Homo sapiens: one gene and its partners. The protein of the gene in region 5 purifies or fractionates together with the protein of the main gene of each other region. This does not show direct contact. Each region holds a gene or a part of one and is shown on either strand. Other genes may lie near its edges.

Region 1 (4,886 bases), on a different chromosome or scaffold from region 5:
CCATGCCCAGCATTTTTCTGTAGCGTCAGGGATTTTGCCGTGTTGTCCAGGCTGATCTGGAACTCCTGGGCTCAAGCAATCCCTGCCTTGGTCTCCCAAAGTGCTAGGATTACAGGCGTGAGCCACGGCTCCCTGCCTAACTTCTGCTTTTAAATTCTAATTTTGGATCCTAAATCTTAGAATTAGGTAAAGGTTTTACTCCAGAGTTTATAACCTTTTTGTGTTATTTTTGTTAAATGTGTGTTTTGAAGCTGGGCAGATAAAATACAATTCTTAGTAATTCCTTACAAACCAAAGTTTATTATGCCTGAGCTAAAACAAGCTTTAACTACAAATATGTATTAAATAGAGGTTCATATATAGGCATTCAGAGGGCTTGCTAGCACTCTTAATTTTTGGACTTTATGCCGTATAGTAATTGTCTAAAATTATTTTCCTTTCTTATGTATTTTAGGTATTTACTTATGGGATGTAGAAGGCAGAAAATATTTTGACTTCCTGAGTTCTTACAGTGCTGTCAACCAAGGGCATTGTCACCCCAAGATTGTGAATGCTCTGAAGAGTCAAGTGGACAAATTGACCTTAACATCTAGAGCTTTCTATAATAACGTACTTGGTGAATATGAGGAGTATATTACTAAACTTTTCAACTACCACAAAGTTCTTCCTATGAATACAGGTAAAACATTTCCTTTTTTTGTTAAATACCCTCAAAAATAATCTTTTTATTTTTTGATAGTTTAACATTTTAAAAAAATCTGAACATTTTTCTCTCCTGATAGGAGTGGAGGCTGGAGAGACTGCCTGTAAACTAGCTCGTAAGTGGGGCTATACCGTGAAGGGCATTCAGAAATACAAAGCAAAGATTGTTTTTGCAGGTATGTGAAATTAAATATTAACTTCTATGATTGAAACATACAATATAATTTACTGTGGCCAGGCATGGTGGCTCATGCCTGTAATCCTAGCATTTTGGGAGGCCAAGGCAGGAGGAGTCTTTGAGCCCTGGAGTTCAAGACCAGCCTTCTGGGCAACATAGGGAGACCCTGTCTCTATTTAAAAAAAAAAAAAAAAAATATATATATATATATATATATATATACACACACACACACACACACACACACACACACACTTATATATTTTATATATAAAAAACATATATATATGTGTAAATTTACTGTTTTAATTTGCTGATGAAATACTTGTAATATGTTTTGCCTGGTACATGATACGTATTTGCTGAATGTTTCATAAAAATTTATGAGGGATTTCCTCTTCTTGGGATTATTTCTTCATATATGAGATTTTTCTTTCTGAACTCCATATTCCTCTCATTTGCCTGTCAGATTTTTTTCATAGCAGTTATCCAGTTAATTAGATAGTCTCACTGGTGGAGGGTTTGTGTTGGGTGCTGGGGTTGGGTGAAGTTAGTGTGGGGCCATGGCCTACATAGACTGTGGTTTGAATCTTGATATTGGAGGTCCTGTTGTGCCATGTTCCACTTAGAAGCTGTTGAAAAGAGGAGGCTTGGAGTTGCCCTTGTTAGGTTTCTGGGACTGGATGAAAGGAATAACTTGAATTTTGGTTAGGGAGACTAGCAATTAGTTGAGAAGATGTAGTTTGACTGTTGGGTTCTTTATATGATATTCAAATGAGAGGTTCTGACTTGTTTTTTAAGCTTTATTTTTTTAAAAAACAAGTATGTGTACATTTGTCACTATAATGGTCAAAGTTCATTCTTGTGATAGTTGAAATCATTAAATATTCTGCCTTGTGAACACATGCAGTTAAATGATAAACCCCATAACATAATAGAATCCAGAGTTCAACCGAAGGCCAGAGGTGATTGGTATTTGAGGGGACAGATTGGTATTCCCAAAGAAGAAATCTTAGCAAAACTCTGTAACTTGCCATTTAAAAATCTTGTGCTTTCGTTGTAGGACAACATAACTGTCTCTTGCAAACAAAAATGGTGTTTCTGGTGATTTTCATTCTTATAGACTGTGTCCAGTCTCTTTCTTAATAGCAAAGGGTGCAAAGATGTTTTCACCTGAGTATTGAAAGAAGCTGGTGAGTCAGTGGGGTGGAGAGACAGAGGAAGACTGTCCCTAACTGTAAGTCCCTTATACCTGCAGGGTAAGTGACTGAGGATGAGGTTCCTGAGGCTAGGCAGGGGAGAGCAAATAGGCTTATGGTCTAATCAGTGCATTTCTTCTTAAACAAACCTAGTCAAAATCAATGTGCTATTTTTTGTGGACAAGTGAAAGAAGAGATTACTTGTGGGTAAGGGATGCTGGTGAAAGAGGCTTTGCAAGAATAGTATTTAGAAACGAGATGAAGCCAAAATACGATAATCCAGCACTGATTAATGGAGTTGCTGCTGGCAGAAGTGGTGAGAAGATAAAAACATGATGTCACAAACTCCCAACCTCTCTGTTATTTTACATGGTGTCTTTCCTTCTTGAATGTCATCCTCTCTGAAATTATCTAGCTCACTTGCTTTACTGGTTTATGTCAGGTGTTTTCTCCCTGCTAGAAAGGAAGCTCCCTGAGGATAGGGATCTTGCCAGTTGTGATCATGATCTATTTCCCAACTTTTTTTTTTTTTTTTTTTGAGACAGAGTTTCACTCTTGTCACCTAGTCTGCAGTCTGGCTCACTGTAACCTCTGCCTCCAGGGTTCAAGTGATTCTCCTGCCTCAGCCTCCTGTGTAGCTGGGATTACAGGCGCCCACCACCACGCCCAGCTAATTTTTGTATTTTTAGTAGAGACAGGGTTTTGCCATGTTAACCAGGCTGGTCTTGAACTCCTGACCTCATGTGTTCTGCCTGCCTCGGCCTCCCAAAGTGCTGGGATTGCAGGCGTGAGCCACTGCACCCGGCTTCCCCAACATCTTTATTATTATTATTATTATTATTTTTATTTTTTGAGACAGTCTTGCTCTGTCACCCAGGCCGGAATGCAGTGGTGCGATCTCAGCTCACAGCAACCTCTGCTTCCTGGGTTCAAGCGATTCTTGTGTCTTAGCCTGCTGAGTAGCTGGGACTACAGGTGTGCACTACCATGCCTGGCTAATTTTTGTATTTTTAGTAGAGATGGGGTTTCACCATGTTGGCCAGGCTGGTCTTGAACTCCTGACCTCAGGCGATCTGCCCACCTTGGCCTCCCAAAGTGCAGGGATTACATAAGTGAGCCACTGTGCCTGGTCTATTCCCCAACATCTAAAACAATGCCTGACATAGTAGATCCTCAGTCACCTTTATTAATGGATAAAAAATATTCCAGCAGAAAGGGAGACGTCTGTCATTTAGCATCATAAAGGATTATAATATCAAGGAAGGTAAAATGGAAACGTGTTTGGATTGCTTGAGGATCTTTTCTCCAAATGAAATTGGAAATGCATTCTGTTGTTAGCCTGCAGTATTGGAGTTTTGAAAGGAAAACCGCTAATTGTCTATGAAGGATATTCTTTCTCATATCACTATCATAAATGCACCTTCTCTAGAAAACATGCATTCAAGACCTCAATTGTTAGGGCTTGGTTTTGGGTTGGGGATTATTGAAAGAAAAGTAAGTTATCTATCTTCAGGGGCTATATATTCCAGTCAAGAGGCTCAGTAGAGAGAAATGCCTAAAATAGGAATTACAAGGCCAGACTTAGTGGCCTTGTGTCATAGGAGCCATGGTGTTTAATATCAGACTTTGTTTTAACAATTGAAAGCCCACCGAAGGTGCACTAAAGCAAGCCCTTGATTTATTTTTTGAGTCAAACTTCTTGTGGTGTTTTGCGGGGATAGTGCTTATTGAATTTTGGGTTTCTTTGAAATAATCACTGTTTGTTTCCCCTTTGTAGCTGGGAACTTCTGGGGTAGGACGTTGTCTGCTATCTCCAGTTCCACAGACCCAACCAGTTACGATGGTTTTGGACCATTTATGCCGGGATTCGACATCATTCCCTATAATGATCTGCCCGCACTGGAGGTATTTCACTAGCATCATAGTGCTCAGCTCATTGGGAATAGAAATTAAAGCTGTTGAATATATGAATTAAAAGTACATTATATGACAGTAATGCAAATTTATCTCACTTAAGTTAAGCCACGATTTCAGACTTGTTCTCAGTAGCGATCAATTAGTTTCCAACACAGAGAAAGCTGAGTTCTGTGATCTACTCTGTACAGCCAGCCAACTACTTTAGATGTGTGTCCTTCATAACAGTTAACTTCGGTATACCTGCTTACTTACTAGGTAAAATTTCTGTTTTTAGCTAGCTTTTTAAAATTATGAAGTGGAAGACTTTTTAAGAAAGCCTTAAGTTGGCTTTAAAAGGCTATTTACTTTAGATTTAATTTAAGTAATTAATTTCTTTTTTTGAGACAGAGTCTCACTCTGTCACCTAGGCTGGAGCGCAGTGGCACAATCTCGTCTCACTGCAAACTCCGCTTCCTGGGTTCAAGTGATCCTCCTGCCTCAGCCTCCCAAGTAGCTGGAACCACAGGCACACACCACCACACCCAACTAACTTTTCTATTTTCTTTAGAGACATGGTTTCGCCACGTTGGCCAGGCTGGTCTCGAACACTTGACCTCAAGTGATCTGCCCACCTTGGCCTCCCAAGGTGCTGGGGTGACAGGCATGAGCCACTGTGCCCAGCCAGATTTAATTTAGGTACATTTGTGTATTAGAAAACAGGCTGGGCATGGTGGTACATGCCTGTAATCCCAGTGCTTTGGGAGGCCAGGGCTGGAGGAGCACTTTGTGTTCAGGAGTTCAAGACCAGCCTGGGCAGCATAGGGAGAGCCTGTCTCTACAAAAAAATTTAAAAATCAAGGTCAGGCGCGGTGACTCACGCCTGTAATCGCAGCACTTTGGGAGGCCGAGGC
Region 2 (4,886 bases), on a different chromosome or scaffold from region 5:
CCTCGGCAATGATGTGGTGAGCCAGGCAGAAGCCTTGAGTTCCAATTCCAAACTATCTTTGTAATGCTTTCTGTAGCTCTACTACCTTCCTGCCTGCAAAATGGGCAGCAAACCACTCCCTGTCTTACCGTAGCATGTCACCAAGCGTGGATTTGCAATCCCAAAAATGATGCTAGGTGGATACATGGACATAGGATTAAGTAACCTTCCCTTTTAATTCTCTTTCAATCCTGATTATGCCAAGGACTCAGTCTCTGGTTGCTGCTAATGTGTCTTTTATACTTCTCTAGACTTGATAATCTCTTTAACAAAGCAAGGTCAGCCCTCAGTCTCAGCCTTGGCAGGTAACACAGCATCTAGCTAGAATTCAGTAATACTGGTTTTCACATATATTTTTACCAGTACCTTCTATTTATAGCACACAACCTTGGTTTTCTATTTATCACTGTGATATAAAACTTCCCTTCTGAGTAAAAAATGAGTTGACTTAAAGGAAAATATTAAGTAATGGCACAAGTAGTATATGAATATGACAAAAATTCTAATGGCGACACATGGTAGGATGCAGATATGGCAGAAATCAAAAAGGTGATACAAGAATGACTGAGGTTTGAGAAACAGTGTTAGAGGTCTGCTAAGCGGAGATAGGAAGATGATGCTGGTGTGAATCTTGTGGGAAAATTACCCTGTGTATCAACACAATGTATTATTACTATGACACCAGCAGTATAGAGAGGAGAACCCAGCGGTCCAGGGCTCCTTGCGGCTGTCAGGGACACTGTCTTCCTCAACCTGCCCTCTGCAGGCTCCTGGAGAGCTCGGGCTCGGGCTCCCAGCTCAGGCCTGGTCCCAGACCCAGCCCAGGCTCTATGCAGCTGAGGTTGGAAAAGGAGTCACCTTAATATCCACTTCAACCTCTTCCTGGGCCGACTTCTCATCGCTCGTATCCACATCCCCAAAGGTTAGAGTCCCATTGCGGCCGATTTTCACCTGCTTCTTGTAGGTGTAGTAGAACTCCACGCACTGGGCCACGGTCTTGGTCTGGATCTGGTTTGAAGTCAAAACTGAGGTCAGAACCCTCTGGTTTGGCTCATCTGCCTGTGGAGAATCCAGCCTTTCTCGTCCCTGCATCTTTCCCTTAACTTCAAGCCAAAATGAAACCCAGCCAACCCAGGCAATACAAGCATTTTTCCAATGCCTGCTCTGCAACAAACCACTGATCAATTAATCAATGCTTCAGCACTATTTAAAATAAGTAAATAAATAAAAAAAGCTATAAAGGACAATGTCGGAACCACTCGGGAGATGGCAATATGGATTGCATATCAGAGGGCATTACTGTATTTTTTTTTCTTTTTTTTGGAGACAGAGTCTCGCTCTGTCACTCAGGCTGGAGTGCAGTGACGCGATTTTGGCTCACTGCAACCTCCGCCTCCCAGGTTCAAATAATTCTCGTGCCTCAGCTTCCTGAGTAGCTGGGATTACAGGTGTGTGCCACCACAACCAGCTAGTTTTTTTTAAATATTTTTAGTAGACATGGGGTTTTGCCATGTTGGCCAGCCTGGTCTCAAACTCCTGGCCTCAGGAGTGATCCGTCTGCCTCTGCCTCCCAAAGTGCTGGAATCACAGGCGTGAGCTACCTCGCCTGGCCTGAATTATTTTATCAGGTTAAATTTCGTGGGCGTGCTAATGGTACTGTGGTTTTGTAGAATATCTTGGTTTTTAGGAGATACGTGCTGAAAGGTTTTAGTCATGTGACAGGATGACTGTAACTTACTTTTAATGATTAGCTGAATCAGAGAACAAGAGAGAGCTGTATATGTGTGTGTCTATGTTTAGACATAGAGAAAGAGAAAGCAAATATAGCCAATGTTAACGATTGCTAAATCTAAGTCCGGGGTGGATGGGTGTTCATTCTACTGTTCTTTCCATTTTCCTCTAAGTTTGAAATTTTTCAAACTGAAAAGTTGAGGGAAAAGGTCTGGGCACCATCTACATCCAAAGCCAGCCCTGACCTGGCAACACAGACGCTTTTCATTAATCCAGGCAAACAATTTCATTTCTCTCCAGGGAGCAGTGGCTGAGAAGTGAGCATACAGAAATGTCACAGTGTCCCCTGTCGGGGGAGGAACTCAAGGGAAACTCACAAGAAAGCCCTGGAAAACCTGAGGAGGAAGCGAAAGGCCTAAGTCTTCCTCCTGACTCTGCTACCACACAGCTATTCGAGCTTAGGCAAGTCACTCACTTTTCTAATTTCAGTTTTTTCATGTGTAAATAGCAAATGGGGTTAAGTAAGACTAGATGATCTCCAGGGACCTGCCTCTCAAGCTCTGAAATTCTAGCTCTCCCATTGCATAAATCTATTTGGCCACTGGGTTTAGTTTTTGGGCAACTTTCCCACACCCAGAGGCTGTTTCCTCTGACACCACCACACAGGCTCGCACATTGCTCAGCCACCGCTGGGCTGGGAGCTCCTGTCCAGAGAGGCCAGGGGTCAGTGTGGGCCCTTTGTGTCTGAGGAGGAAACAGACATGTTTCATCTCACAGAAATGGCCAAGTCACACATGTATTAATTAGGCCATTTACACATTTACTGTCAATTCTCTCTGACCCTTTGTTTGACTGACTAAAGGTCTGCTCATTTCATTAGGCATTAGGGGCGCCTCCGTGAATTTCACGGGCGTGTACTTCCCGTCAGTATTGCCCAATCAGGGAATAGCGTGTTACTAAAACACAGCAAAGGACTCCTCACAACAGGGCCCTTGTAGGGGAATTCATCATCAGCACTTTGTCTAGTCCCCAGGGCTGTTCCCAATACAATCTACAATCCCAAGAGGAAAGGGCATGCTCTTTTTAAAAACTCTTTTCCCTTGGCAGTCCACACAATTCTCTCTCCCCACAGCCCAGATTTTGTGAGACAGGGCTGGAAAGATGCAATTCCTTGGATTAGCAAAGCATCTGCTTTTCCAGAAGAATATGGAGAGAGGACAAGATAAATCTAGGGAATGTGGGCTTGAACAGCTGAGTTACTGGAAGGCAACTCTGGGTCAAAGGAAGTGGGCAGAGGCCCCCAGGTCAGCTCCGCAGGCACTTGCTGGCTCTCAGTGGCCTTCACCCCAGGGTGCCCTCCCCCTGCATCTTCCTCTGGGGAATGGCTCACCTCTACTTGCCACCCTCCTCCGCATCTTCCTCCTGCCTATTTTAAGTCTGATGCCCACTTAGGCCTCCTTCTGGATTGAGACCCCAGAGCTTGGCCACCCTACCCTGAAGTGAGGAAAGGATGCTTAGAACCAAAAGGGAAAAGAGACCTATCTTTCTCTTTCTTGTATTGTTTAGGAAATTCTCTCTGAGGCTACTCAGTAGCATTGACCTGACTGCTTTTTAAGAGGGATTGGTCACTGGCAGAGGGAGCCCCAAAGTCACACAGGCAGCTCCTGGCCCTCATTTGCCCTGAAACAGAGCCCAGCTCACCAGCTTCTGCACCAGGAAGAAATCCTTCTTGTAGATGGCAATGCCTTTGTTGAACAGCTTCCTCTCGGCCATCTTCCACTGGTCAGAGCCTATGGGGCAAAGAGGCAGCCAGGGAGTGAGGTGGGCAGGGCCCTGGCCACTGCAGGGCAATTTTGACAAGCAAAAAAGTGTGAGGCCATCCGCCCATGGTTTCTGCAGGCATCAGAGCCGGCTCCTCGTCCCACTTCCATGTGCCTCACAGCCTCGCTCCCTTGCTTGTGAAATGGAAACTAATATCACCTAGCTCACCAGCTGTGGTGAGGATTAAATAAGATAATGCATGTGAAACCCTTGGTGCTCTGCCTGGTGCAGATGAAATGTAGCACTAACATGCATGGAAAACATTGGCTGTTAGGATTATGTGACTCGGTCCATGTCCTTCTTAAAGTGACCAGAACAGGACATGCACTCCTGGGGCTAAGTTCCAGGTACCTGATGCCAATCTGGATGGCTCTCCATGGGTTCCTGTCCTTGTGGCCTGGGCTTTTTTGCCTGGATGGTCTCCCACCTGCCCACTCCCTTCTCCCCTCCCCTCCAGGGCACAGGAAACCCCTGGAGAGCTACCCCAGCTTTGGTGGCAGTTCCCTCACTCTGACTCTTGGCTTATCTACCCTCCTCCTCCCGCCCCCACCCAGGGCTGTGACTCAGCACTGAGCAGGGCCCCATGGATGCTGGAGACCTCTTGAGGCTCCAGGCACCATGCCCACCGCAGCCAGGCCCACCTGTGTAGTGATAAGTTGCCAGCGGATGGTTGTGGGGCCGCAGGGGCTTCTTCAGCAGCAGCTTATTCAGCGTTTCCTGGAGGGGAAGTGAGGGAAGGGTCAGGGCACTGACAGGGGTGTCGGTGGTGGACGGAGCATTCTAGGCCCTGATAAAATCCCGAGTAGGGTGGACACTTACTCTTGCCCCCTTAACTGCTGAGAGATAAGGGGTCCACTGGGGTGGTGAGATCACAGGGGGTGGGGCTGCCCAGAAAACAGACCTCAGGTCCTCTTAAGAGAGTCCATGGCCCCAAGGGAGGCAGCACTGCTGGAGAAGGCTCTCAGCAACCATCCAGTCTGAGTCCACTGACCCAGAATCAGGGATGGGAATGGACAGGAGGACACTGCACAGCAAAACCCGGGGTCTGAAACTAGGGCTCCCTTGGGTCAAGCCCCTACAGCCCCTTCCTTAGTCAGACCCTCCTACTGGCCTCAAATGTGCATGCCAGCAGCCATAGGTCCTGAGCAGCAGACATGGATCCAAGCCAGCCCCCACTGAGGGGCCCTCCCTCTGCTGGGGTTGCCTTCTCACCAGGATGTCTCCTCTGGATTCGTGCAGACAGTGCAGGGCCAGCTCCTGGTTGGTGCCAGCACCAGGGAAAATGCTGGAGCAGG
Region 3 (4,886 bases), on a different chromosome or scaffold from region 5:
GCTGTGACCAAGTTGGCGCCCCCCTCACTCTCCCCTCCTTGCCCAGTTCCCTGTCAGGTACCTTGCAGAGGCTTGGCGGCCCGCTGGAAGAAGTTCTGCTCATTGAACAAGCGCCCATCCTTGGCATCCTGGTGGGGGACAGGAGGGGCAGAAGGCTGTCACACTGAAGTCTCAGATAAGGGCCCCCAGTCCCCACTGGCAATTTGTTACTCCCTCAATGACCAGGCTCCTCATCAAGTCCCCACATCGGAGCCAAATTCCTCAGGTACTGCACACAAACACACATCAGAGACTGCGAGCTACCTTGCTGTACCCAGGTTCCTTTTCTTTCTCTTATGGTAAGAGCCACAGTGTTCCCTAGAATGTAGCCTTCAGCATAAAAACTACGTTTCCCAGCTTCCTTTGCAGTGAGGACTGACCACATGACCAAGTTCTGGCCAATGAGGATGTGAGCAGAAGAAATGTGGGCAACTTCCAGGTTATGCCCTTAGTGGGCTGGGACAGGCTCTACCTTTCCTCTTCTGTTCCAGCTGGCTGCAACGCAGATGTGATGGTGGAAGCTGAAGCAGCCACTACGGCCCAGGAGATGCAGGTTATGCGTTGAAAATGTTGGTGCAAAAAGAAGGAAACAGGGCCCCTTGTTTATAAAACCATCCTATCAGCTCTGGAAAACTGCCCCTGACTTTTAAATGAAAAAGCAATAAAACATCATCTTGCTTAAGCCACCATTAATATTAGGTATTTGTTAAAATAACACTAAATGGCCAGGTGTGGTGGCTTAGGCCTGTAATCCCAGCACTTTGGGAGGCTGAGGCAGGTGGATCACTTGAGGTTAGGAGTTCTAGACTAGCCTCGCCAACATGGTGAAACCCTGCCTCTACTAAAAATACGAAAATTAGCCAGGCATGGTGGTGCGTGCCTGTAATCCCAGCTACTCGGGAGGCTGAGGCAGGAGAATTGCTTGAACCTGGGAGGCGGAGGTTGCAGTGAGCCAAGACTGCACCTCCAGCCTGGGTGACAGAGTGAGATTTTGTAGCAAAAAAAAAAAAAAAAGCACCAAATATTTTAATTAAACACAACTCATGCAGCTGAGTTCTTAAGAGTATAGAGTCAAACAGATCTAGGTTCAAACCCCAGCTCTGCCATTCATTCATTCATTCTTCCTACAAAGCCTCCATTATATGCTGAGTATTATTCTGGGCATTGGGGATATAGCTGTGAACAAAGCAACCTGCGTGCTGGGTGCACCTGGGCAAGTGACTGAGTCTCCATTTCCTCATCTGTTAAATAGGAACATGGAAGCCATCCCATAGGCTTGCTGAAATAATTCAATGACATAGTAAACACACATACACACACACACACGCACACACAAAACCCCAAAGAAAACCAAAAGGCTGGGTGTGATGGCTCATGCCTATAATCCCAGCACTTTAGGAGGTGAAGGTGGGAGCCCAGGAGTTCCAGACCAACCTGGGCAACACAGGAAGACCCCATCTCTACCAGAAAAAAAAAAAAAAAAAAAAAAAAAAAAGCTGGACGTGGTGGTGCATGCCTGTGGTCCCAGCTACTTGGGAGGCTAAAGTGGAAGGATCACTTGAACCTAGGAGGCTGTGGCTGCAGTGAGCCTTGATTGCACCGCTGCACTCCAGCCTGGGTGACAGAGAGAGATCCTGTCTCAAACAAAAATCCAAAAGAATTAAATGACATAATGCTTGTGACACTCAGCCCAGGGACTGTCACATAATAGGTTCTCAATAAGCAGGTGCTGCTACTGGTCATTAGTGAGCCTGGCTCCCTGCCCCATCTTCTCCTCTTCTTGTCCTTTTCTCTTTTTGCGTCCTGGAGTCCTCCCCACGATGCTGGCGAAGCCCATAGTGACTGACGCGAGCGACGTGGGCACAGCCATGCAGGCCCTGAGCAATCTCATGTGGGGTATTCATGCCTGCCCCACTCCCCCAAGGGGGCAGCTCCTTCAGGGCAGGAATTGGGTCTGACCCATCTCTGCAGATGTCCCCAGCACTCAGTTCACAGGAGGTTGCAGGAAAGGCTTGGTGAATAAATGAATAAATGGATGGATGAACACCACTGGGCATTCAGCCCCTGACCTTTCGAATGCTTCAGAACAGAGCTGCCTTCCCAGTGGATGGGGAGGGTGAATGTCTTCTGGTTGGCCCAGTGCCCTGTGCTCCCCTCCCAGCCCACCCCTCTTCCCGATGGGACTGGGACATGACATGGCTCCCGCCAGACTGGGAGCCTCTCCAGGGCTGGGCCTGGGGCCAACTCATCATCACCAAGTTTTGAGCCTCAGGAAATGTTGATGAGGTCAGATGCACGAACAGAGAGCAAGGCTGTATTTCTAGGATGATGAGCATAATTACAGTAGTAATAACAGGAACAGCTCAGGTTGATGGGGTGCCTACTGTGCCAGACACACCTGAACCATGCAGAGAAGTGTTAAATGGGACACGGTAGCTGCCCTACTGGGAGGATTCAATGAAGCAGTGCTTATGAAACACAGCCCGGCTCAGGCAATGCCAGGCTCTCAAAGCAGGTGCTACCCACCACTAGTGAGCCCGGCTCCACAGCCCACGCTCTGACCCACTCTCATGGCCTCCACCTAGGGCGGAGGGAGGGCAACTGACCCAGCTGTCCCTGGTTTTCTGGGGTGTGAGACAATTCTGATAAACAAAAAGAAAATAAGAGTCACCTGTAATCCCAGCACCCAGGGATGATGGCGGGGCTATGAACCACCACGATGCCCTTCTGTTAGGCACCTCCTCTGTGTGGAAGGCGTGATTCACCCTCGTGGCCACTCTCCCTTTCTCTATTTGTTTCCTTTTAGCCCCAACCTCGAGTGCACATGTCCTGTCTGCTGAGACTCATGCTCGGCACCCGATGTGTGATTTCACTGAATCCTCAGCACAGGGACCCCATCTGCTGGGTTCTCTTTTGGACCCCACACCCAGCACGGTGATACACAGTAGGTGCTCGATACGAGCACGCTGCGAGGCCGGTGGTAGGGGGCAGATGGGCCACACCCTGTGGGTATTAGTGGCTCCATTTCACAGATGAGGAAACTGAGCTCTGAGGGGGATGGGCTTGCCCAGGTCACACAGCAGGGAAGCATCAGAGCCAGACTTGGGTGGATCCAACTGTGGGTTTCCAACACCCTGGGATGATGGAGAACTGGGCGCCTGCCCCGCCCACGGTCTTAATACTCCTTGCAGGTGGGGACCCTGGCCCCCGGCCGAGCTCTCCCAGCTGACAGACGGGCTCAGAAGTCAAGGATGTGTTTGTGAAAGTCCCTCCCCTCCAAGCTGCCCCCCACCTGCAGGGTCACTTACCAGTTTGAGTGAGAACTTTTGCTTCTGTGGTCCTGAGTCACAGGTGAGGGTGGAGGTGGGTGCAGCTGTGGGGGAACAAACAAGGGAGTGAGGTTATAACCACGCGGAAGGTCAGGGTCATCATCCCCAAACTTCCCAGCAATGAGAAGCGGCTCTGGTGCCCTGGTTCCAACAAGGTCAAGCGCACTCTTGGCTCTCACGACTTGCTGCTTCCTAGTTTTAAATAAGCTTCTTCTTCCTCTTTCTCTCTGTCACTATCCAGCCATGCAGGAAGGGCTAATGCAGCAGGCCTGAGACGGCTCTCCTGGCAAGGTCTGGGACCCTGGATTCCGGGAGGGCTCCCAGAATCCCCTAAGTGAGTGGGGCTCGCTGAGCCTAAACTGCTTGTGCAATCACTGTGGTTTCTGTGCAACACCTGCTTTCCTCTGGGGAACCTGGGATGCGGATACATGTCAGACAGAGGGGGCCACATGACTACTCCCCAATAACAGCCCCGAGCACTGAGCCTCTGAGGAACTTCCTGGTGGACAGTTCCCATGTACTGTCACAGCCTGTGGCTGGGCAATTAGGTGCGTCCTAGGCAGAGTGACTTCATCCAAGGCCACATCCCAGGGTGACCCAGGTCCAGTGACTGATTGAGGTGGACATAAAGGCCCAGCCTCTCCTGGCCCAACACGGACGCACGCTGAAGGACCACTTTTGCTCCAGAGCCCTGCAGGGTCGGCTGAGGCCATCACTGGGCTGCATCGCAGCCCACCTCCTGCTCCTTACCCCCTCCTTGGGTTCTGATCCCTGAGGCAGCTCCCCATAAGCACCCTGCATGCTTGTCCCCCGACAGAGCCTGCTCCAGTAGCCCTTACTGTTCATTTACAGACCTCACCACGTCTCTGGCCCTGTGCTAAGTGTGGGCTTCACATGCATGGTCCCATCTGACAGATGAGAAGAGGAGAGAGGCCAAGAAACGCCAGGCTGACCCAGGGTTCAAATCCCAGCTCCTCCATCTGCTCTCTGTATGACTTTGGGCCTCCATTTGCATGTCTGTAAGATGGGAGCAGTAAGGCCTACCCCGAGACTGGCTGCAAGGACTCAACAGGCTGGCAGGAGTAAGAGCAGCACCAGCGATGTGTGCAGCAAGAGTCTGCATCCCCCTTCACGCACACTGCTCAGTGAACCCACTCAGCCCAGAGCCCAGCACGGACCCTGGCACATCAGGATTGCTCCACAGGTGGTGGCCTTAAAATATCCCCATAACACCAGGGCTCCCCAGCCGGGGAGTGGCAGAGCTGGCTCAACCTGGGTCTAGCTAATCCCAAAGCCCATGAGTTGAGCTCTTGTCGCCCGCACACCTGACTCACGCTGGTGTCCCTCCTTCCTCTGTTCTCATCGTTCCCACTCTCCCTTCATCATCGAGGCTGGTATCGTCTAAGACACTGAGCTGAGGGATGGGGGGTGACAAAGTCACCCAGAAGCCATCCTTGCCCTCAAGAAGCTCCAGCTGGAACAGGGTTGGGAGCCAGCTCTACACGTTCAAGGCCAAGG
Region 4 (4,886 bases), on a different chromosome or scaffold from region 5:
TCAGCCTCCCAAAGTGCTGGGATTACATGCGTGAGCCACCGTGTCCATCTAAATCTAAATTTGATCAGGAAAATGGAATTTGTTGACTATTTTAAAAATAACTAATGAATGTTAGCTCTTTCCAGTTTTATTACATGTATCAATGAGCATTATTAATTAAGGACTGATTATTTTAAAAATCTTTGTCCTTTTGCTTCTGGTGGGGTACTTCTTAAGTTAATGTATAAGAAAAATGCAGACAATCTTTCCACACACACATGCCACATAACATTACATATATTTATACACTTAAGAGGCTACACCACTGCTCAACAAACAAATGAAGAATATCCGCAAGCAGCCTTCTTCCTGGTTCTTTAACTGCCTCCCTCCCCTGTTCTCCTTTATTTGTTAATAAAAATAACAAATTTTACAACTGAAATTTATATCCATAGTTCTGGCCTCTCATCTCAATTTCCATCCTGCATATCTGAGAGTTAAGAGAATAATTCCACTTGAATATCTAGCACCAACTTGACATATCCAAAGCTGAAATCATCTTCTCCAATGGGTTCCCCCATCTTCTGTCAACTGCTTTCATCAGGGAATTCCATTCTTTCCAGTCCCTTAGGCCTGAAACCTTAGTTTTCAGGCATTATAAAATGATAACATTATAGTCAACAAACCCATTCTTTCTTTTTTACCAAAATTTGCTCTTACACTTAAGTACAAATCTTCACCACTCCATGTTTGAACCTGACAGTTTTTCTTATTTGCCTGTCTTTTCCTGTACTGTGCCAACCACAATATATAAAATGGGTACATTTAGGAAAAAATTACCAAGTTAGAAATAATAGTATCTTAATGCAACTGGGAAAGAAAAGATCCTGCATCAACTTAAAAATTAACCAGAGTTGGCAAGGCACGGTGGCTCATGCCTGTAATCCCAGCACTTTGGGAGGCCAAGGTGGGCGGATCATGAGATCAGGAATTCGAAACCAGCCTGACCAACATGGTGGTCTCTACTAACCCCGGTCTCTACTAAAAATACAAAATTACAATAATTAATCCATTAATACAATACAAAAATTAGCCAGGTGTGGTGGCGCATGCCTGTAATCCCAGCTACTCAGGAGGCTGAGGCAGGAGAACCGCTTGAACCTGGGAGGCAGAGGTTGCAGTGAGCCGAGATTGTGCCACTGCACTCTAGCCTGGGCAACAGAGCAAGACTCTGTCTCGGAAAAAAAAAAAAATTTAACCAGAGTTGCTTCTTCTAATCATAATTCTACTGCAGTCTTGGGATGATAAAGAGTCTCCAAGGCTGTGTGCCCCAGTTGGAGTTCCCTAGTGAGGAACATTAAATACTGTTAATAAAAGGAATCTTTTAAAGCTTTTCTGAAGGAGTGTAATTGAAGCATTAAAATAGATGCAAAATGAGGGCCAGGTGCGATGGTTCACTCCTATTATCCCAGCACTTTGGGAGGCTGAGTTGGGTGAATCACCTGAGGCCAGGGGTTCAAGACCAGCCTGGCCAACATGGTGAAACACCGTCTCTACTAAAAATACAAAAATTAGCTGGGCATGGTGGCGTCTGCCTGTAATCCCAGGTACTTGGAGGCTGAGGCAGGAGAGCTGCTTGAACCCTAGAGGCGGAAGCTGCAGTGAGCCAAGATTGCACCACTGCACTCCAGCCTGGGCAACAGAGTGAGACCCTGTCTCAAAAAAAAAAAAAAAAGCAAAATGTAAATTAGGGAGGGCAATTTCCAAAATTAAATAACTCAAGTATAGCAAAAAAGTGATACTATGCCATAACTGTCTAACATTTTACACTTTCAAGTAACTTCTATATCCACTTTAATTTGTTTATAAATATAAATGGAAGCATCAGATAATCTAAATGTGACATGGGTATTTGCAAATCTCTCTATCCTAAAAGATGGAGACCTTTCAGCAGTGGGGTACTCCAATGTTGGTATCATCTGGGATCATGCACAAGAAGTCAGCATGAAGCAGGTAAATAGTTCCAGATTATGCCCCATAATCAAAAATACTTTCCGTGACCTCTACATTTTATTCCCAGGGGAAAAAACATTGAAGGGAATCCTTGCTCTTCCCGTAGTGGGCATTAATTTTTTTTTTTTTTTTTTTTGAGATGGCGTCTCCCTCTGTTGCCAGGCTGGACTGCAGTGGTGCAATCTCGGCTCACTGCAACCTCCAACTCCAGGATTCAAGTGATCCTCCTGCCTCAGCCTCTCAAGTAGCTGAGATTACAGGCACGTGCCACCATACCCAGCTAATTTTTGTATTTTTAGTAGAGATGGGGTTTCACCATGTTGGCCAGGATGACCTCAATCTCCTGACCTCGTGATCCGCTCACCTCGGCCTCCCAAAGTCCTGGGTTTACAGGCATGAGCCACCACGACCGGCCGCAATTAAATTTTTTTTTAAACCACATACTCTACTTTGGTGAGTGCACTGGTCCCCTATTCCCCACAACGCCCAGAGTAAACTTTTGAAATGCAAATCAGACCATATCAGTCCCCTGTTTAAGAACCTCCAATAGCTTCCCACTGCACAGAGAATAAAATCCAAAGTCCTTACTGTGGTCCACAAGGTCCTCCATGACATGGTTCTGGTCTCTCTCTGATCTCATCACCTACCACTCTCTCCCCATGGTCCAGCCATGCAGGCCTTCACTTCAGGCTCTTTTCCATCTCAGTGTCTTCATACAACTGTTCCCTCTGGCCTGAACTATTTTCCCCCTCTTCTCTACACATGGCTGGCTTCTGCTCATTCAATTCTCAAATCAAACATTACCTCCTCAAACCTTCTTAACCTTTTTTACGTTAGCAGCAATCACTTTTATCATATTATCCTACAATTTTTTCACAGCATTTACCACATTTTGAAAAAACTTGTATTTTTCCTTGTCTTCCTACCTAGACTATATGTGTGAGTATGCTGTTCATCCCTATATCCCCAGCACCTAGAAGAGTGCCTGGCACATAGTAAACACTCAATAAACATTTGCTTAATGAATGAATGATGTTTGGAATTATAAAGTGGCAAAGACAGGATTCACAGAAAATCAGTAAGTTGAAGGGTAAGAAAGAGGAGGAAACCCCTGTGTGGAAAGTTATTAAACAGAAAGCAAGCAGAGCTAACAACCTGAACCCAGAAGGAGTTTAACTTTTGCCATTTGTTAAAGGACCTGTCATTTTCACTCTGCAAATGAGCAGACACCCACAGATGCCTTTCAGACAGAAGGTGAATGCTTTACAGGCATAGATAGGAACTCTGTTTTCAGTGTTGGAGAGCTATAGACAGGTTCTAGAGGCCACAAGATAGCTGGTAAGACTTTATTGAGACGCTATGTTAAAACAAAAAGAACCTTACTTTCGCCAAAGGGTAGAAATGACCTTATTCAATTATTAATCTTTTCTTCAGTCAAACCAGTAAGACAGAAAAAAAAAAAAAAAAGATCAGATATGAAGGCAGGAACACTTCAGTCTCCAAATCATAAAGCCATTTGGGAGAGGAAGAAAACCAGGAGGGAGTAGTTAGTCTTCAGAAACTCATACTTTGCCAAGTAGCCTTCATGCTGACAAACCAATTATTTGTTAGACAGTATAGGGGTTCTTTTGCAATCAATAATGAAATACAGGAAGATCTCTGGGAACAAAATAGAACTGACAGACTGTAGAGATGACAAAGGATGAAGAAAGATTTAATCTTAAGTTCAAAGAAAATGAAGCAAATGAAAATAAAAATGAATTTTTAATTCCAGAAATAACTCCCCAATTTTTTATAAAATTGATAAAATCAAGACTTTTCCATTTATTATTATTTAAAAACAAAAAGAAGAAAATGCTGAGAGAGTTAAAAGTAGTTAACCCTAGGAGGAGGATACGGGGCAGGGAACTACCATTTATGCTATCTTTTCACTTATTCCTTTGATCAAATTAAGAATTAATTTTAAGAAGAGTAAACTATTTAATAAACAGTAATGCAGACTAACTCCAATCTTCCATATACCTTTTTTTTCATAAGGGAAGGCCTTTATTCATCCATCTCCATATACATTTTAACATATAATCCCTAGTATCAATGTTTTTATTATTTTATTTCTGATGAAAGTAAATGTATATACATAAAACATCAGTTAATCCTAGATTTCAATTAATGAATTACCAGTTAGCTGAATTTGTTCTTCATTAGAATTCTGGCATCCAGTCATTCCTATGCCTACATTAGTAGCAGAATGATGATTTGAATATACAATGTATATTGAATATCAACCCTTAGACTATATTGAACAGCAGGAAACCTTGACATACAGCAAGGGGAAACTCTTCTCATTACATGTTCCTGTTCCACATAAATAGGAGACAGTACAAAGAGCACTTCCTTAGACAACACAATTCCATAAATAAATAAAAGTTATGTTTTCAAAGAATATTTAAGAACCTAAGAACTTGCATATCATAAAATGGTATTTTTTTTTTGCCGGTTATAAAACGAAATATTATACAAAACACATTTTGTTGAAAAAAGTCTTAAAAAGTACCTACAAAGCATAAACAGTATTGGATTAATAGGTGATTTTTATTTTCTTTTTTCTAAATTTGCCTTCAATGAACATACATTACTTTCAGGGGAAAAAAGTTAAAGAAACTAAATCATTAACATAAAGGACAAATCTGAGAAAGTGTCAGAATACAAAGAAGTGGCATAGAGATGAAAACAATAACAGAAGATGATATGGAAGACAGAGAGATAAAATATAGGCCCGGCGCAGTGACTCATGCCTGTAATCCCAGGACTTTGGGAGGCGGAAGCGGGCAGATCACTTGAGGTTAGGAGTTTGAGACCAGCCCAGTCAACATGGTAAAACCCCATCTCTACTA
Region 5 (4,886 bases):
TCTCTAGATAGCAGTTTCCTCATTTGTAAAATAAAGAGATGGACTAGAAACAATGAATTCCAAATTTAGAATTGCATCAACAACATCAAAGGAGATTATTGACAGTTCAGAGACATGGGCACCATGAGTCCCATGGAATCCAAATCTCCTGGAGGGGAACCCAGTTCATTGTATCTCTAACTAAGACTCAGATATAACCAATCCATGGGCTGACATTTGGGAACAACTGAACCATATAATCTTTAACATCTCTACCTGGTGTAAAAATGTTGACTCTAGTCAAAAAGGTAGGGTACTTAATATTTTCAAGCCTCATGTAACTCCTCCATAAAATAGGGCTAATAAACTCACCTGAAATAGTTATTGTAAGGAGCAAAGATAAAAAATGAATGTAAGAGGCCAAAGAAAGTTCCTTCCATTGTGTAGATACTCAATAAATGGTACCCATCTACTGTTTGTGTCAGAAAAGCATTCCTTCAATTAATATTTGCAAATCCTCCCCATGTATAAGCCTCTATGCTAGGTGACGTATCAAAGACAAGCAGAGAGAAATCAGCAAACATATGTACAGCAAAGGAAATAAAACAGAGACATAAAGATAAAGTGATGGCATAAGACAGGTACCAAAGTTGTAGGCTAATCACCAGTATGATGCTCTCATGCAAATCTGTGGCTGCTGAGTCTGGCTGTTAACTTCAACTGCACTATGGGGCAAAAGCCCATTTCTCCAAAACATGGGAAGCTATGCAGCAGTATTTCCTCAGGATGTTAATAATGCTCAAAGGGAAAAACAGTGGTAGTAAACAAATTCATTCAATAAATATTTGCTTAGCACCTACTATGTGCCAGAAACTTTTCTTGGTCCTGGAGATGCAAGAGTGAATACAGTAATCATGGCTGCCTATCACTGCAGACAAAATTTCTGCCCTCATTTCCTCAATTGTGAATTCAGGAATCAAAACTAGCTTTAATATTAGTGGAAAAATAGAGAAAAATGTATTTTCAAAAAGTAATGTCCAGCTTAGCCACCTGTAAAATATATTTTCTCCTTAATTCCTCATATAAGTATCAAGAAAACTTTATTTCTAATATATTAAATTGGTGCAAATATATTAGGTTTTTGCCAATACTTTCAATGGCAAAAACTGCAATTATTTTTGCACCAACCTAATAGTTATTTTAGGGGAAGGAACTTAAGGGATTTCTGTATGTGTGTGCCTGTGTGTGTGTGTATGTGTCTCTCTGTGTGTTTTAAAGTTCTTGAAAGTCTCTTACCTATATGCAGTAATAATTTCTTTATTATTGGATATATATGTGTATTTTTATTTTATTTTTATTTTTATTTTTTACTCATAGGTTGCTTGGAAGTGGTTTTAGTGAGAATGTGCCGTGCCTTCAACCCATTAAACAACACTGTTCTGTTTGAAGGAAAATATGGAGGAATGCAAATGTTCAAAGCCTTAGGTAAGTTTCCCTTTGATGAGGACACAATTTTATTAGCCACCATCAGTTTCTCCACTTAGATTGAAATTGGTAAATGAAATGCCTTGATTCTTTGATGTGAACCAGTATCTCATTATTCGATAAGCGATGGACCAGGTGAGCTTCTAATTCAGGCAAGCCTCTCCTGATCTTGTAACTGTGGCCTCCAATACAAAAGAAAGAGAGAACTGAGGACCCTCCTGAGAACAACCCTATTGAGACATCGTTCATTCAGAAATAAATGGAGGCCCAGCGTGGTGGCTCATGCGTATAATCCTAGAACTTTGGGAGGCCAAGGGGCGCAGATCACTTGAGCCCCAGAGTTCAAGACCAGCATGGGCAACATGGCCAAACCCCATCTCTACAAAAAGTACAAAAATTAGCTGGGCATCACCAGGTGTGGTGGCTCATGCCTGTAATCCCAGCACTTTGGGAGGCTGAGGCAGGTGGATCTCTTGAGGTCAGGAGTTCTAGACCAGCCTGGCCAACATGGTGAAAGCCAGTCTCTTGCAAAAATACAAAAATTAGCCACGCATGGTGGCTGACGCCTGTAATCCCAGCTACTCAGGAGGCTGAGGCAAGAGAATCGCTTGAATGTGGGAGGTGGAGGTTGCAGTGAGCTGAGATAGTTCCACTGCACTCCAGCTTGGGCAACAGAGCAAGACTCCATCTCAAATAAATAAAATAAATAAATAAAATTAGCTGGGCATGGTGACACACACCTGTAGTCCCAGCTACTTGGGAGGCTGAGGCAGGAAGATTGCTTGACCCTGGGAGATTGAGGCTACAGTGAGTCATCTTCACACCACTGCACTACAGCCTGGGTGACAAAGCGAGACCCTGTTAAAAAAAAAAAAGGAAAGAAATAAGAAATAACCGGAGGCTGATGCTAAAAGAGTAAAAGAGCTGGGCTGAATTATAGATCATTCTTTGTGAAATCAGCTTTTTTTTTTCAACTTTATTGCATATTGCATAGACCCCTGGTCATCCATGGTGGTGACCTCTTGCGTTTCTTATGTCAATTTATCATCATGAGTTAAGATACTTAATTAAATGAGGAGCTCCTCTACTTGTTTCTCACCCACAGAAGTTAATTCACAAAGTTCTGGGAGCACAGAGTTCATGCCAACCTGTCCACAGTGATCCCAGACCATTCCTGTGGGAAGGCACTAACAGAGTCAGTCTTTGTTTGGAAGTGTTATATATCATCACATCCAGTCATCAGTGCATGGCATGGTAGGAAGAACATTAGCAAAGATGGGCTGATGCCAGGAAAGGTTTTAACGATTGATAGTGCCATTTGTTCCATATCCTGCCCATGGACACCAAAGAAGGCCACTGCCCTTTCACCTCTTGTGCTGTTAGTTGATATGGCAGCCAACAACAAGTCCATCGGGGCTGGCAATGTTTCCCTTCTACAGTTGATACACATCCATGTCATCTCCAAGGCTAGATTTTCAAGAAAGGAGGAAAAGCCTTGGCAAGCAACCTCAGTATATTTCCAGCTTCATCAAATAAACATTCACCAGGGATCAGTGTAGAGATGCAACATTATTTTGCCAAAATACGCAACAGCTAAGCAACTGACCTGTGAGTCATTCATTAGAAGGTAATAATAAATAAACTCTAGCTCCTCAGTGAAATTTCCAAGGAAATTGCGAAACTGAAGTGCATCTCATCTCTGTTCCATTAGATATTTCTAACGTCTCAGTTTAAAAGTCCAGAATACCCTACATTGCTAGCTTCAAGTGTTACGAAGACTGACAATCCTCAGCCCCTGTATGTAATGTTTTAGGTTTTCTATGAATACTATCTCTATTGTAAAGGATCCCCAAATCACTTATTTTATATTCTTTAATGTGAAATCATTTCAAATTTATAAGGATGTAATCATATTATGGATTGCCAGACAGATGTGACACCACTCACACACCAAGTCTACTTGCTTGCCATTGGTAGGTAATGTTAACTTGGATTGCCTGGCCAAGATGTTGCCCAATTTTCTCATTCTTTGATTAGTATCAAATCACTTTTTATAATTAGAAACTTAAAAAAATATCTTTTCTAGAAGTCTAGTATGCACCTCCTTGGATAGCTTATTGATTATGAGATTTTTCTTACTCTTGCCCCATTTCAAGTTCAAGTATTTTTATTCCATTTTTCTTCTTCCTTTATAGGTTCTGATGACCTAGTGAATGAAGCATTTGACTTTGCAAAGAATTTGTGTTCCTTGCAGCTGACCGAGGAGGAGATCGCTTTGTTCTCATCTGCTGTTCTGATATCTCCAGGTAGGGCAGTCTCAGTTCTCTTACCTTTTTAAAAAACTTGTTTTACTATTTTTAACACTGATGACACCTGCCTAAGCCAAAGTGTTCAGGAGAAACTTTAACAGAGCTATATTTTCTTTACCAAGTTTTTGATATTTTTGGACAGTGAAAAGGGAAGTAGCCTCAAGTTTATTAAAATGACCAATTTTGGCCCGAAAGCAAGAGTAGAGCATAGGTTAGGGGTTATTCCAGATTCAGATACGCAGAATCATTCCTTAGCAAATAAAGGAAGACAAATAGTGGCCTGAGTTACAGCCAAGTTCTATTTTGACTTTAAGAATAAAGTACATAGAAAATAAATGTCCAGTTGGATGAGACACAGTAGAAATGTACCTAAATGAAAGCTCCAGAATGGGGACCTACATAAGTAAAAGGAACACTTTCTACTCTTTAAACACCTCTTGTGTTGGCATCTTTGCCCAAATTCATGTTGAGGTGCTCACTTCAGACAAATGCTGGTGCCTATTTTCTTAGCAATACATTTGACCTTGAACAATGCAGGGGTCAGAGCATTAACTCCCTGCATGCAGTCAAAAATCTGCATGTAACTTCTGACTCCGAAAAATTTCACTACCAATAGCTTACTGTTGACCGGAAGCCTCGCTGATCACATAAACAGTCGATTGACACATACTTTGCATGTTAAATGTATTGTATACTGTATTCTTACAATAAAGTAAGCTAGAGAAAAGAAAATGGTACTAAGAAAATTATAAGCAAGAGGAAACAGATTTCCTGTTCATTAAGTGGAAGTGGATCATCATAAAGGTCTTCATCATGGTCGTCTTCATGCTGAGTAGGCTGAGGAGAAGGAGGAAGAGGAGGGTTTGGTCTCGCAGTCCCAGGGTGGCAGAAACAGAAGGAAAATCTTCATATAACTTGACCTACACAGTTCAAACCTATGTTGTAGAAGGGTCACCTGTATCAGGAGTTTTTAAAAGGAGGTGAGGACAGCAGAGGGGAAAATGACTCATACTGAAGACTGCCCAGTAGAAGAGGAAAAACTTCAGACATGGAGGTGGACATTCTGGTGCCAGCTCTGTGACCAAGTATCTGTGTGATATTAAACATTTGACC
Region 6 (4,886 bases), on a different chromosome or scaffold from region 5:
TAAAATATTCCCTGCTTTATTCACCCTGTCCCATTCCCTCCCAAGAACCTACATGGTTACCAACCATGACTTGGCTGACAGCAGTGAGAAAGTTGGGTCTTTCCAGAGAGAGAGAGAGAGGAGAGATTCTTCAAGGAGCATGCCATGGCTTGGGAATGGTTCTCTGGCAGCAGGATTCCCAGGCATGCCTAGCTGTGTGCAGTCAGGCTGGTGACCTGGACCCCATTTGTGTTTCCTGGGGGTTGTGCTGGGCTGCTCAGCAGAGAGCTCCTGGGGAAGCTGACAGGACTCCCAGAACAACCCTGATCCAGGGACCCTGTTCATGCACTTCTGCATGCTGAGCCTGTGTCTTGCAGGGCCCATCCACCAAGACAGCCCTGAGAGCTGGGTTCCTACTGCCTCTGTGAGACACAGCAAACCTGGAGAAATCAAATGCGCTAGAAACCTAGCCACCAGCTGATTCCCATAGCCACAGCAAGCCAGGCACCTGCAATCCTGACAGGGTCCTGCCACTTACCTGTCCCCACCACCCTCCCAACTTCTCTCAGGCTTGAGTGAGGCCTTCTGAAGTTGAAGGGCTTTCTGCAGTTGTTTAAGGGCCAGGCTTGGCCACCAAGCCCTTTGCTACATAAAGTTGATGTGGCCTTCATACATACACACATTCACTGTGCCCCTACCTGCTGGAGTACCCATTGCCATCTGACTCCTTGGCTGAGCGGACGACTGGGCCACAGCAGCCCTGCAGTGTGCTTCCTCTCCCTCTATGCCTCTTGCGGCCTTCCCAGCTGAAGAGGTTGCTCAGCTTGGTAAGTACGACTACAACACACTACTACCCCAAGGGTGGGAGTGTGTGTTGATCTCGTGGCATGGAAAGAATTATTCTCATCCCTTCACACCCACCCACCCGCTCTCCACTACTCCCCTGCCTCAGTAGCAGAGGCAAAGGAGCCAGTTCCTGGCTGGCTGGGCCAGGGAGCCCACTGAGGGCCAAAGCTTCATCTGGCGGAAGGCCTATATACAGAGGATAGGCAGGGCTGTCTCCACAGGCAGGCAGGCAAGCTCCGCTCCAGGCTGGGCAACCCCAAAGGGCACGAAGAGGCCTCTACTCGCACGCCAGCTTGCTGTCGAAGCTGGACAGGGCAATGGCAAAGGCCTGCAGTGCACACAGCGGGTAGTTGTAATCCATGGTGAACACATCCTCTGCTACCCGGCCAAACTGCATCACGATGTAGTCCGCTGGGGCCAAGCACAGGCACAGACAGAGAAAAGGACAGGACAGGAATGGTAGAGCCAGGGAAGGATAGACAGACACCCAAACCACATGAGGGAAGAACAAGTGAGAAGCAGAGATGCCAGGGGAATCACAAAGGGAAGTAAAACAAAGGCCAATTGGGAGAAGTGGCAGGAAAGAGGTGGCAGATGGCAAAGGACAAAGTAAGATGCATGTGAACACCAGGGGACAGAAAAGAGGAAAAGTCCTTTTAAAGGGTGTTCCCGTGCCTGAGACTCCGTTGAATACACAGAATCTAGGACCAGGGCTGCAAAGAAGGTTCTTCCAGGACCTCCCAGTCATTAGGGTTAGAAAGTTCCATACATCTAACCTTAGCTGTATAGCTCACATTCTTAAACTCTAGCCAGTGTAGGCAGGGCTAGGTGGGCTGAACCCTACGCTAAGGGCCTTGGGTATCCTACGGACCATAATGAGTAGGGACAGAAACACTCACGGTCATTGCCATGGATGATCTGGAAGTTCTTCACGGAGGCCTGTGTGACGCGCCCATGGAAGTTGAGTACATAGGACTGTGTGTCATCATTCCAGACAGGTGTCTTGTTTTGCAGCTCGATGATACTCTCCGTGTTCTTATTCTGCCAGCGTGCTAGCAGTGTCTCATGCTCCTGGGAGGGCAGCCTCACCTGAGCCAGGCCCAGGCCTTTGGCACCATGACCACCCCAGAAAGGGATCTATCCCGGGAATGGGGGTCCTTGGATTTCCCTAGACCTCCAGGGCTTTCTCACATGGTACCCCTCCACATACACACATCAGCTGGAGTTCTGCCCTTAGAAGCTCATGCAGAGACTAGGATGATGGGGAAAGAGGGGAGGAAGGGGTAGACACTCACGTTGCGGGGGCGGATAGAGACTCTCTCATGAACCATGTTCATGCCTGGGACAATCACGCTCATCTTCCGAGGCCCCTTGAAGCCTAAGACGTTTGTCTCCTGGGAAAGAGAACGCAACACTGGCCACCTGAGGCGTCTATTTACCTACTGGAGAAGGTGGGGGGGACGGGAATAAAGAGGAAGAGCTAGTTCCCACCATCTCCACTCCGAAGTCTAACACACATCCCTCTAAACCTAACACGGCCAGAACTGAGCCCCTGGGTCTCTACCCTGCCAGAACTAGCTCCTCTTATGCGTCATCCTTGCTTCTGCTCACGGCAATGCTGTTCTTCCACTCGCTCCGGCAAACTACTTGGTCACACTCGAGTCCTCTCTTCTACATCCTACGTCTAATCCATCAGCAGTTTCTGTCAGCTCCACCTTCCAATTATACCCAGACTTCCACCACTTTTCACCACTAGCTTCTCTCACCAAGATCATTCTAACAGCCTTTGCCTGGACTCCTGGTTTCTGTTGTTGGCCCTCCTATTCCTCCTTCCCACCATCTGTTCTCAACACAGCAGCCAGTGCTCAGGCACATTAAGTCAGATGATCTTTCTCCTCTGCTCAGAACTCTCCAGTGGCTCTCCAGCTCACTCCAAGTTAAAGCTGGAGATGTGACTTCACCTGCACGTGGCCCCATGACCTTCCTCTCCTCACCATTTACTGCCTGGTATCCACTCCATTCCTTCTTCATGCCAGGCATTCAGGACTTTTGTCCTCACTGTGTCCCCTAGACACGTACACTGCTGTTTTTCACTTCCTTCTGGTCTTTACTCAAGAGCTACCTCAGTGACGCCCTCCCTGCCATTCTGAAATTCTCACACATACCTTGACATTTCTTATCTCCCCTCCCCTACTTTTTCTTCTTAGTGTTTATAAAGAACATACTTACTTCACTGATAGATCTGTTTCATAGCTTGTCTGCCCTGCTAGGGCTTTAAGTCCCATAAAGGTATACATTTATGTCTGTTCATTACTATATCCTTAGTGCCTCAAACAATATGCTTAGTTGGAGCTCAGTAAGAACTTGAAGACTCAGGCTGCCTCCCCAAAACTGGTCAGCAGGTGGCACCACAGGATCATACAAAGTAGCTGTGGATTACTTACTGATGGCCTCCAAGAAGTGCCCATGCCCAGGTTGATGAGATACCCACCCCTGATTTTAAAAATGAAGAAAAAGGTTCAAAGGGGTAGAGTAATCCCCTATATTTATATTCCAGTTTGGTCGTTTTTGAGCTGTGTGACATCTGCAGCTGAGCTTCAGTTTCCTCATCTATAAAGAAAATAGGATCTACCTCTTAGGTTGAACGTTCAGTGAGATGACAAAGTGCCGTGTAATCCATGTAGAACCTGGCATGCCAGAGGGATGATCTGGGAAATGCACAGACAAGAACCCAGGGCGACCGTCTCCTTCTGTCTAAGAGACTCCTGGCCTGGACTGCAGAGAGCCAGGCCTGGTTTTCTGAGCTCCCCAAGCAGATGGCCGGCTGTGGTGTGAGCTCTGAAGTCAGGAGGAGAGAGCCAGAGCCCCTGTCCTAGGCCAGGAACACTCCACAGAGGACAGCCCCTCTCCACACAGCCTTGTCTACCCACTAAGATGGATGGGATAGCCCCTAGATCAGGCATCAAGTCCTGGATTTCATATCTACCTTGGAAATCAGAGACCCCCGAACCTAGGACTCACGTAGCACACAGCTGCCAGCTCCTGACGTAAGGTTCCACTTTCCAAAGTGGAGGATGAGGCCTTCTGAGGGTTGACTCCATTGTCATAAACAGTGAACTTGGTGCCCATCAAGTTGGACCTGAAATAAAGGCACAATCAGTATAGAGTCATGCACCCTCTGCCCCAGAGCAGGGAACAGCTCATCGTCTGTCCTATGAGGAGCCTGCAAAACATTCTGGGCTGGAACAGGAGCAGGCCCAGGGAGGCATACTGCTCACTGAATCCACATCTTTGAAGACACTTCGTGGGCAGAAGGCCTGGACTTGCTCTGAGTTGACTCAAAGTGCATTTCAGTTCAGTGAGAGCAATTCAGGGAGGTCAATCAGGATTCTTCAGAAGATTTATCTGGGGGAACATGGGAGTTCTCCTCATGGGAGGTGAGCAAACAGAATGGCATCTGATAAGACAGTGGAAGAGGCTTAGCACCCGTGGAGAGAGGATGAGATCTCCTCTGTCGCAGCCAGCCTAAGTCTCAGTCCAGCCCCATCTCCAGCTTTAGCTCCTGACCTCTCATCTTTATTTATGCTCCCCAAATCTGGTACTCAGTTCCTCAGCAAACCCTACCTCCCCACTGCCCCCACCTGGAGGCCTAGGCTCAGAGCCTTCCTGCCCCTTCACCACTGCCCCCCACCCCCAAGATTGCTGTGTGTCTCTTCCCTCAAGAGCTCACTCTCAGCCCTGTCCCTTGGCATTGACCATGGAGCCAAGGCAACTCTTCCATGGTGGCCTGCGTTATCAGTGACACCCTGGGGTTGGATCCATCACTCTTGGTGGGCCTGCACCCACCTCCTGGGAACAGCTTGGGGTCGGGTGTGTGATTCCCATCTCCAAGTCTGGCTCTAGGCTGGCATAGACATAGGCCTCCAGTTGGATGTGATTATCAGAGAGGATCCTGGGAGAGTATCCATCCCTGGCCTAGATCTCCTTCAGGAAGATTCAGGCCCTCTACAGACAGCTTGCCCCTGCCCCTCCCTCCCACTCCCGCCTGCTTCCTGGGGGAA

The links.
Region 1: the proteins of RORB (region 5) and OAT purify together in Homo sapiens (affinity purification with mass spectrometry, with the first as the bait; one large-scale study listed by BioGRID). This does not show direct contact.
Region 2: the proteins of RORB (region 5) and MIDEAS purify together in Homo sapiens (affinity purification with mass spectrometry, with the first as the bait; one large-scale study listed by BioGRID). This does not show direct contact.
Region 3: the proteins of RORB (region 5) and VRK3 purify together in Homo sapiens (affinity purification with mass spectrometry, with the first as the bait; one large-scale study listed by BioGRID). This does not show direct contact.
Region 4: the proteins of RORB (region 5) and UBN2 purify together in Homo sapiens (affinity purification with mass spectrometry, with the first as the bait; one large-scale study listed by BioGRID). This does not show direct contact.
Region 6: the proteins of RORB (region 5) and TUB purify together in Homo sapiens (affinity purification with mass spectrometry, with the first as the bait; one large-scale study listed by BioGRID). This does not show direct contact.

What each region holds. Positions count from the first base shown.
Region 1 is NC_000010.11:124,404,534-124,409,419, reverse strand, and holds part of OAT (ornithine aminotransferase, mitochondrial isoform 1 precursor), read left to right. Parts: intron 1-454; coding exon 455-679; intron 680-782; coding exon 783-878; intron 879-2,003; exon of another isoform or gene 2,004-2,117; intron 2,118-3,856; coding exon 3,857-3,984; intron 3,985-4,886. UniProt on the Homo sapiens protein: Catalyzes the reversible interconversion of L-ornithine and 2-oxoglutarate to L-glutamate semialdehyde and L-glutamate.
Region 2 is NC_000014.9:73,721,801-73,726,686, forward strand, and holds part of MIDEAS (mitotic deacetylase-associated SANT domain protein), read right to left. Parts: coding exon 4,804-4,886; intron 4,309-4,803; coding exon 4,233-4,308; intron 3,561-4,232; coding exon 3,472-3,560; intron 1,048-3,471; coding exon 898-1,047; intron 1-897.
Region 3 is NC_000019.10:49,997,443-50,002,328, forward strand, and holds part of VRK3 (serine/threonine-protein kinase VRK3), read right to left. Parts: intron 3,413-4,886; coding exon 3,348-3,412; intron 129-3,347; coding exon 62-128; intron 1-61. UniProt on the Homo sapiens protein: Plays a role in the regulation of the cell cycle by phosphorylating the nuclear envelope protein barrier-to-autointegration factor/BAF that is required for disassembly and reassembly, respectively, of the nuclear envelope during mitosis.
Region 4 is NC_000007.14:139,286,243-139,291,128, reverse strand, and holds part of UBN2 (ubinuclein-2), read right to left. Parts: intron 1-4,886.
Region 5 is NC_000009.12:74,664,132-74,669,017, forward strand, and holds part of RORB (nuclear receptor ROR-beta), read left to right. Parts: intron 1-1,356; coding exon 1,357-1,464; intron 1,465-3,659; coding exon 3,660-3,770; intron 3,771-4,886. UniProt on the Homo sapiens protein: Nuclear receptor that binds DNA as a monomer to ROR response elements (RORE) containing a single core motif half-site 5'-AGGTCA-3' preceded by a short A-T-rich sequence.
Region 6 is NC_000011.10:8,097,836-8,102,721, reverse strand, and holds part of TUB (tubby protein homolog), read right to left. Parts: exon of another isoform or gene 3,965-4,886; coding exon 3,847-3,964; exon of another isoform or gene 3,383-3,846; intron 2,220-3,382; coding exon 2,121-2,219; intron 1,897-2,120; coding exon 1,725-1,896; intron 1,237-1,724; coding exon 1,103-1,236; 3' UTR 1-1,102. UniProt on the Homo sapiens protein: Functions in signal transduction from heterotrimeric G protein-coupled receptors. Binds to membranes containing phosphatidylinositol 4,5-bisphosphate. Can bind DNA (in vitro). May contribute to the regulation of transcription in the nucleus.